Regions from separate parts of the Homo sapiens genome. Here region 2 is linked to region 1. Evidence: fine-mapped QTL for protein levels in blood plasma. Region 1 holds a variant in brackets. A gene starts in the other region. All regions are shown on their reverse strands.

Region 1 (2,911 bases):
CTCCACTTTTTTTTTTTAATTTTTATTTTTTTGAGATGAATCTCACTCTGTCACCCAGACTGGAGTGCAGTTGCACCATCTCAGCTCACTGCAACCTCCACTTCCCAGGTTGAAGCAATTCTCCTGCCTCAGCCTCCTGAATAGCTGGGATTACAGACTTGCGCCACCATGCCTGGCTAACTTTTGTATTTTTAGTAGAGATGGGATTTCACCATGTTGGCCAGGCTGGTCTTGAACTCCTGACCTCAAGTGATCCGCCCACCTCAGCCTCCCAAAGTGCTGGGATTATAGGCATGAGCTACTGCTCTTGGCCTCCTTCACTTGTTAAGACAAGCAACATGCTTCATCTCTGGACAAAAAGTGATACTCTCCTTGGGGAGGTCTTCTGATATTGGTTCTATTAAGGTGCAAAATAGGAGAGAAACTTAGGGTCAGCTTCTACAGATTTGGAGTATCTTTGCCCTCTTAACTAAAATCTTTAACTTCTCTCACTTTTCAGATGGTCCAAAAGAACACAAATAAAAGCGGAAAAAAATGTCAACATGCTCTTTCCCCCACCTTGTTTTGTCAGCCTTCCATTTTCCTCATCCATAACTGTGTATTTAAGTAAAAGATGAATTAAACATCCTTGGGTGTTTGGAAAACAAAAACACAAAAATCTTTATACCAGATAGGGAGTGCATTCCTTATGCAAATTGTTGACATAAAAATAGTAGCTTCTTCTTTTGAATTTGCAGTTCAGTTTCTTTTGAATTTGCAGTTCAGTTGTCTGTGAACTTCTAGGTTCTAATAAGAAAATATTAGTTTAAAATTAGTCTTAATTATGTTAAAACTCCTTACCTACTGAAGATGAAATGGCTTAATGGCCATATTTCTTGCAAATAAAGACAAGAAGGGGGAGGAGGAGGAGGAAGAAGAAGAAGAGGAAGACAATGTACAACTACCTTTTTCTTCAGCCTAAAGAGTTTCTTTCTTTTTTTTTTTTTTTTTTTTTGGAGACGGAGTCTCGCTTGGTCACCCAGGCTGGAATGCAGTGGCATGATCTCAGCTCACTGCAATCTCCGCCTCCTGGGCTCAGGTGATTCTTATGCCTCAGCCTCCTGAGTAGCTGGGATTACAGGTGCCCGCCATCATGCCCGGCTAATTTTCGTATTTTTAGTAGAAACGGGGTTTCGCCAGGCTGGTCTCAAACTCCTGACCTCAGGTGTTCCGCCCGCCTCAGCCTCCCAAAGTGCTGGGATTACAGAAGTGAGCCACTGCGCCAACCAAGAGTTTCTTCTTGGCAGGACAGAGCCATGCACTCTCCAGGTTTCAGAGAGGAGACAACTTTGGATCTTTTGATACTGTAGCAGGGGATGGAAAAGATGAATCCTTCTTCCTTAAATCAACATCTGGCAGGGTCTCCACTGAGGCACAGGACAGCTCAGCCACTGACCCCAGGGCAAAGCTCTGTGTTGCTGTTTTATTTGGGCTTTAGGGGGTGGAGAGAATAGGTGGCACCTAGCATCCTCCTGGGAGGAGGGCTAAAGGCATAGGGGGGCAACGGCAAAAATCTGAAGTCTGAGCTTGGCCTTTGGAACAAGGTCACCTTCCAGTGTGGGACCTCTCTGCAGGTCCCTAAGGCATGTGTTTCTCTGTGTTTATACCTGCGTGTTTATTTCTCCTGCAGGTGGGCACAGGCTTCAGTTTTACTGATGATACCCACGGA[T/C]ATGCAGTCAATGAGGACGATGTAGCACGGGATTTATACAGGTAAAATGCTCCTGCTTTCTCTTGGCTTTCCTAAGACCAAACATTTTTCTATCTCAATAGGAAAATTATTCTAGTGTTGGAATTTTTATTGACTGAGCCTTATAGTCCAATTCCTGAAGATAATTTAAGGATATTTTCACATCCACACACACAGAGCAGAATTTTTCAATTAAAGATTATTTTTTAAACCTTTCAACCAGACATCTGAAAGGTTTCTACTTGTTTTCCAAATTTGTATTTAACTTTGCATTTGCAGGGAGACAACATCTTTTCAGATATTTGTTTGTTTCTCAGGATTCTTCTTTTCGTGGCTTTTGGATGCAATTTTTTACTTTTTGCTTCTATTTCATGACTTTTCCAGGCTGAAAACTTAGCTTGTTAGTCTCTAGTATTCTCTCTTCTTCTTATGAAAGTTTTGTTTTGCTTAAAAAAAAAAAAAAAAGGAAAAATGTAAAGTTGTAAGTCTGGCCAAACAGTGTCCATATAATTTCTCCCTTTTTTCACTCATATTAATCATTGCTATTTTTAGCATTTTTAAAAAAAAGCAAGTGACCTTTCTTATTTGGTCAGATTTTTCCAGTCTACAAATTATTACTAGAGACCAAGTCCTAGATTCTTTCTGGTCACTAGGGCACCGCTTTATGTATTATAATAATTTACTAAAAGAACCCTAGTGGCCAGAAGGAGTTAACTAGCTCCCTACCCCACACCTCCACCAAGCACTCTGTTAATTACTACCAATCCTCAAAGCGAAAGTGCATCTAATAGGAGTCAGAGTTTGCTGATCTCTGACAAAAGCTTTCCGTTTTACTTTTCTTTCTCTCTGAGGCAGATAGGTGGCCGGGGGGAGAGAAGAAAGAACTACTTCCAAGCCCCTTTCCCAAAGATCTCTCCCTCTGCCCACCCAGAAAAGAATATGGCTGTTGTCTTCTCCACTTTTGTTTGTTTTTCACATGTTCCATGATTCGATCACTTCTATTCAGTTTCTAGGGGGATGCCCAGGGCCCCACACTTCTGCTTCCACATACAGTGGGGTCCTAGGGACATATTTGCCAAGATGCTGACGGGGTGTTCCCCCCAGCACCTCCTCCCCTTCCCTCCACAGACGTAACGGACGGCAGTCCTCCTCACAGGCTTCTTCAGAGCCAGGGCCAGGGCTCTC
Region 2 (2,911 bases), not on the chromosome of region 1:
CATCCAGCTCCACTGGCTCAGCCTCAGCAGGCCCAGGACAGCTTTCTTTTCCTGCGGCCAGAGCTTTTGTTCATTCCTGGGTAAGGAGTAAATCACACTTCCCCTTATGCTTTTGCATTGAAGATGAATGAGAACTTCTGGAGACAGTGGAAAAAAGCAGCAGCTTCTAGAAGGCAGATCCCAGGCCCCAGACTGTGTAAATGTCTGAGTGGCATGATCAGCTATCAAGTCTCCAAGTCACTTACCATTCACACATCCATCCATGCATCCTCTATCCATCCATTCATCCATTCACCCATCCTCCAATTATCTGGACCAATTTCCTTCTTTTTTCTTTCCTTCCCTCCCTCTTTCCTCTCCTCTTTCCTATATTCCAAGAAATATTTGTCTAGAGTCTGCCATGTGCCAAATTTCTCAGATTTGGCAGACTTCTTCAAAGCATGAGAAGCCGCCCAGGAGAAAATTTAGTCCTTCATTGAGCCCAAATCAGCTCTTCTGTGCCCTGAGCTTCTTGCACATATGGAACTCTCTATTTAGGACTACAAAGAAGGAGAGAGGAGGTGCGGACAGAGAGAGAGGAGAGAGAAACAGAACGATTCCTAGTCTGAGGTTGCTGAGCGCCCCTACTTTTTTTGAAAATCTCACATGGTGCAGGAAGCAGGGAGGAGAACCCAAGTCTTAGGTTTACACTTTGAATCTCCAAGTTGCATATTATAAAGGGATATTGTATCAGCCAAGATGCATTAATAACAGGAAGCAGGATATTCTATTGCAATGGTTGCCTATTTGGTATCTCTGCTTCCAGGCTTCTCCCCACCAGTCTGCTCCTCACCAGGATCAGAGTGATGTTTCTACAGTGTCCCTGTCCTTGTCTCTCTCCTGCCTGAAGTCCTTAATTGGCCCCATGTCACCCACAAGCCAGAGGTCCAGCTCCTTGACATGATCAGAAGGATCTTCATCATCAGACCCCAGGTGCCTCTTCAACCCCGTGTGCATCCCCTTCCTGTTGGAATGTATATTTTACATTCCAGCAATATTGCAACTATTTACAATTTGCCAAGCACTCCATGCTATCTTATGCTCCATCCTTTGGCATATGCTTATCTTTCTACTGGATTTTTTTTTTTCCCATTACTCCATTTCATATGCTTCTTTGAACTGGGCATATTTGTCTCTTGTGCTCATCACCTTGCAATTTATTTGCTCATGTCTGTCTTTCCTACCAGACTATGAGCTGCTTGGTGCAAGGACTGCGAGTTATTCATCACTGTGGCCCTATGCCTGGTAGAGCATCAGTACCTAGAAGGCACTCAGCCTGTATTTGTGGGGTGAATGGATGGGTGGATGGATGACGAGAGTCTTACAAGAGAAATGGGATAGGTTTGGGACAAGATGGTTAATGTATCCATGTAACAGACCCCCAGAGAAGACAACAAATGGCCTCTTCCTGAAAGCTCAGACTTCTGAGGATGGGAGTAAGCCAGACAAGGTATCTAGTCAGGAATAGGGAAGTTGGGATGATATGGTGACCTGCTGTGGGACTGACTTCCTGTTTCCTCTAGATAAGAGCCCTTGGAGAGACAGGCAGCCAGAAGCACCTGTGCTCCCAGGATAAGGGTGAGCACTCAGGATGACTGTGGAGAAGGAGGCCCCTGATGCGCACTTCACTGTGGACAAACAGAACATCTCCCTCTGGCCCCGAGGCAAGCCACATCGCTGCTGAGAACCTGCTCCGTGTTCTGTGTGCAAACCTGCCCTTTGCTGCTCCTTCAACACACATTTTCTTCTTCTTCCAACAGAGCCTCCTCCCAAGTCCGGTCCATCTCTGGTCCCGGGGAAAACACCCACAGTCCGTGCTGCATTAATCTGCCTGACGCTGGTCCTGGTCGCCTCCGTCCTGCTGCAGGCCGTCCTTTGTAAGTCCTCATGTTTCATCGTCTGGGCTTAGCCCCTCTCTGTGGCCAGCCGGCTCCCTTCAGATCGAGACCACTTCCCTGCTCTCCGGGTTTCTCCTGCCTGTGGCTTTTTCATTTGTCTCCTTCCTCCTCTTTCCATGTGCAGTAACAGGCTGTGCTGCCCCCAGTACGGTGAGCTGATGCTCTTTCCCTCCCAATTTCTGGGAGATTATTGGGATTAGCATTTGCACATTGGTGCTCAAGGATACATTCTTTTGTCCTCAGGAAACATTGATCTAGTTTTACATCCTGTGCTATTTTCTCCCCGTCCACCCCCCACCAATCTGAGCTCTGCTCCTTGGATCTAGAGCCTTGTGGACAGTCCTTGACAGTGCAATGTCTCCTGACCCTGTGAAGGACCGAGCCTCATGTATCATTGGCCCCAGCTCACCAGATGGAGAGCCTGGCCAACGAGCCAACAGATCTCCATGACTCAGTCCCCTCTCCCCAGGACTCGTTGGTGCTGTCTTCATTCTCCTGTCCCTGTGAAGATCACATCTAGGGAGGCTTCCTGCTCATTTGATGTTGCATGGTTTATCTTTCTTCCTTTTCTGGCTCTGTCAGGCTTCATGGCCTTTGCTGCTGGCAGAGCCTTCTTCCTCCTGCCAGGGCTCCAGGAAGCAGAGCAAAGGGACCCAAGAAGCTGTTGGGTTTTTTTTTCTCCCTCTGTGGCCTCGGGACATATTTGGGCTTAGACTTGTAGGCTCTGAGCAGAGTCCCCCTTGCCCCATCCTAGACCCCTGGCCTCTAACATCGCATTTTCCTCAGGGCTCGCCTTTGAGCCTCTTGGTTTATCTTTGATCCTCTCTCTGGTACCCAGGCCTGGGACCTGAGCAGAATGTGAAAGTGGGTGGGGCAAGGGAAGGGGAGAAACAGTTTTGTAATCTCCTCTTCCATGTTCTCTGGAGAAGCCACTTCCAGATTAGTGGCTGGTTCTTCCCATGGTCACAGAGGGG

Alleles and levels. Positions count from the first base shown, and alleles are read on the strand shown. Strength reflects both the effect of a copy and how common the allele is.
For the plasma level of the protein whose gene starts at base 1,591 in region 2, T is the low allele of the variant in region 1 and C is the other (weak association).

Evidence for each region. PIP is the chance, under the fine-mapping model, that this variant and not a neighbour inherited with it causes the effect. Protein levels are from antibody-based Olink assays in UK Biobank. Linkage for the fine-mapping came from a reference panel and not from the study's own genotypes, which makes the PIPs less certain.
Region 2: it holds the start of CD207, and the variant in region 1 is fine-mapped to the plasma level of the CD207 protein (UK Biobank, PIP above 0.99).

What each region holds. Positions count from the first base shown.
Region 1 is chr7:29,091,461-29,094,371 of GRCh38, reverse strand. It overlaps CPVL (carboxypeptidase vitellogenic like), which reads left to right. Exons shown (of 13, transcript NM_031311.5): 6 at 1,670-1,749. Among named protein-coding and RNA genes, the nearest start is that of CPVL-AS1, 13 kb to the right of the region's middle. The variant T/C (reference allele first, on the strand shown) is at 1,709.
Region 2 is chr2:70,834,496-70,837,406 of GRCh38, reverse strand. CD207 (CD207 molecule) reads left to right here and starts at 1,591. Exons shown (of 6, transcript NM_015717.5): 1 at 1,591-1,703; 2 at 1,800-1,916. The coding sequence starts at 1,631.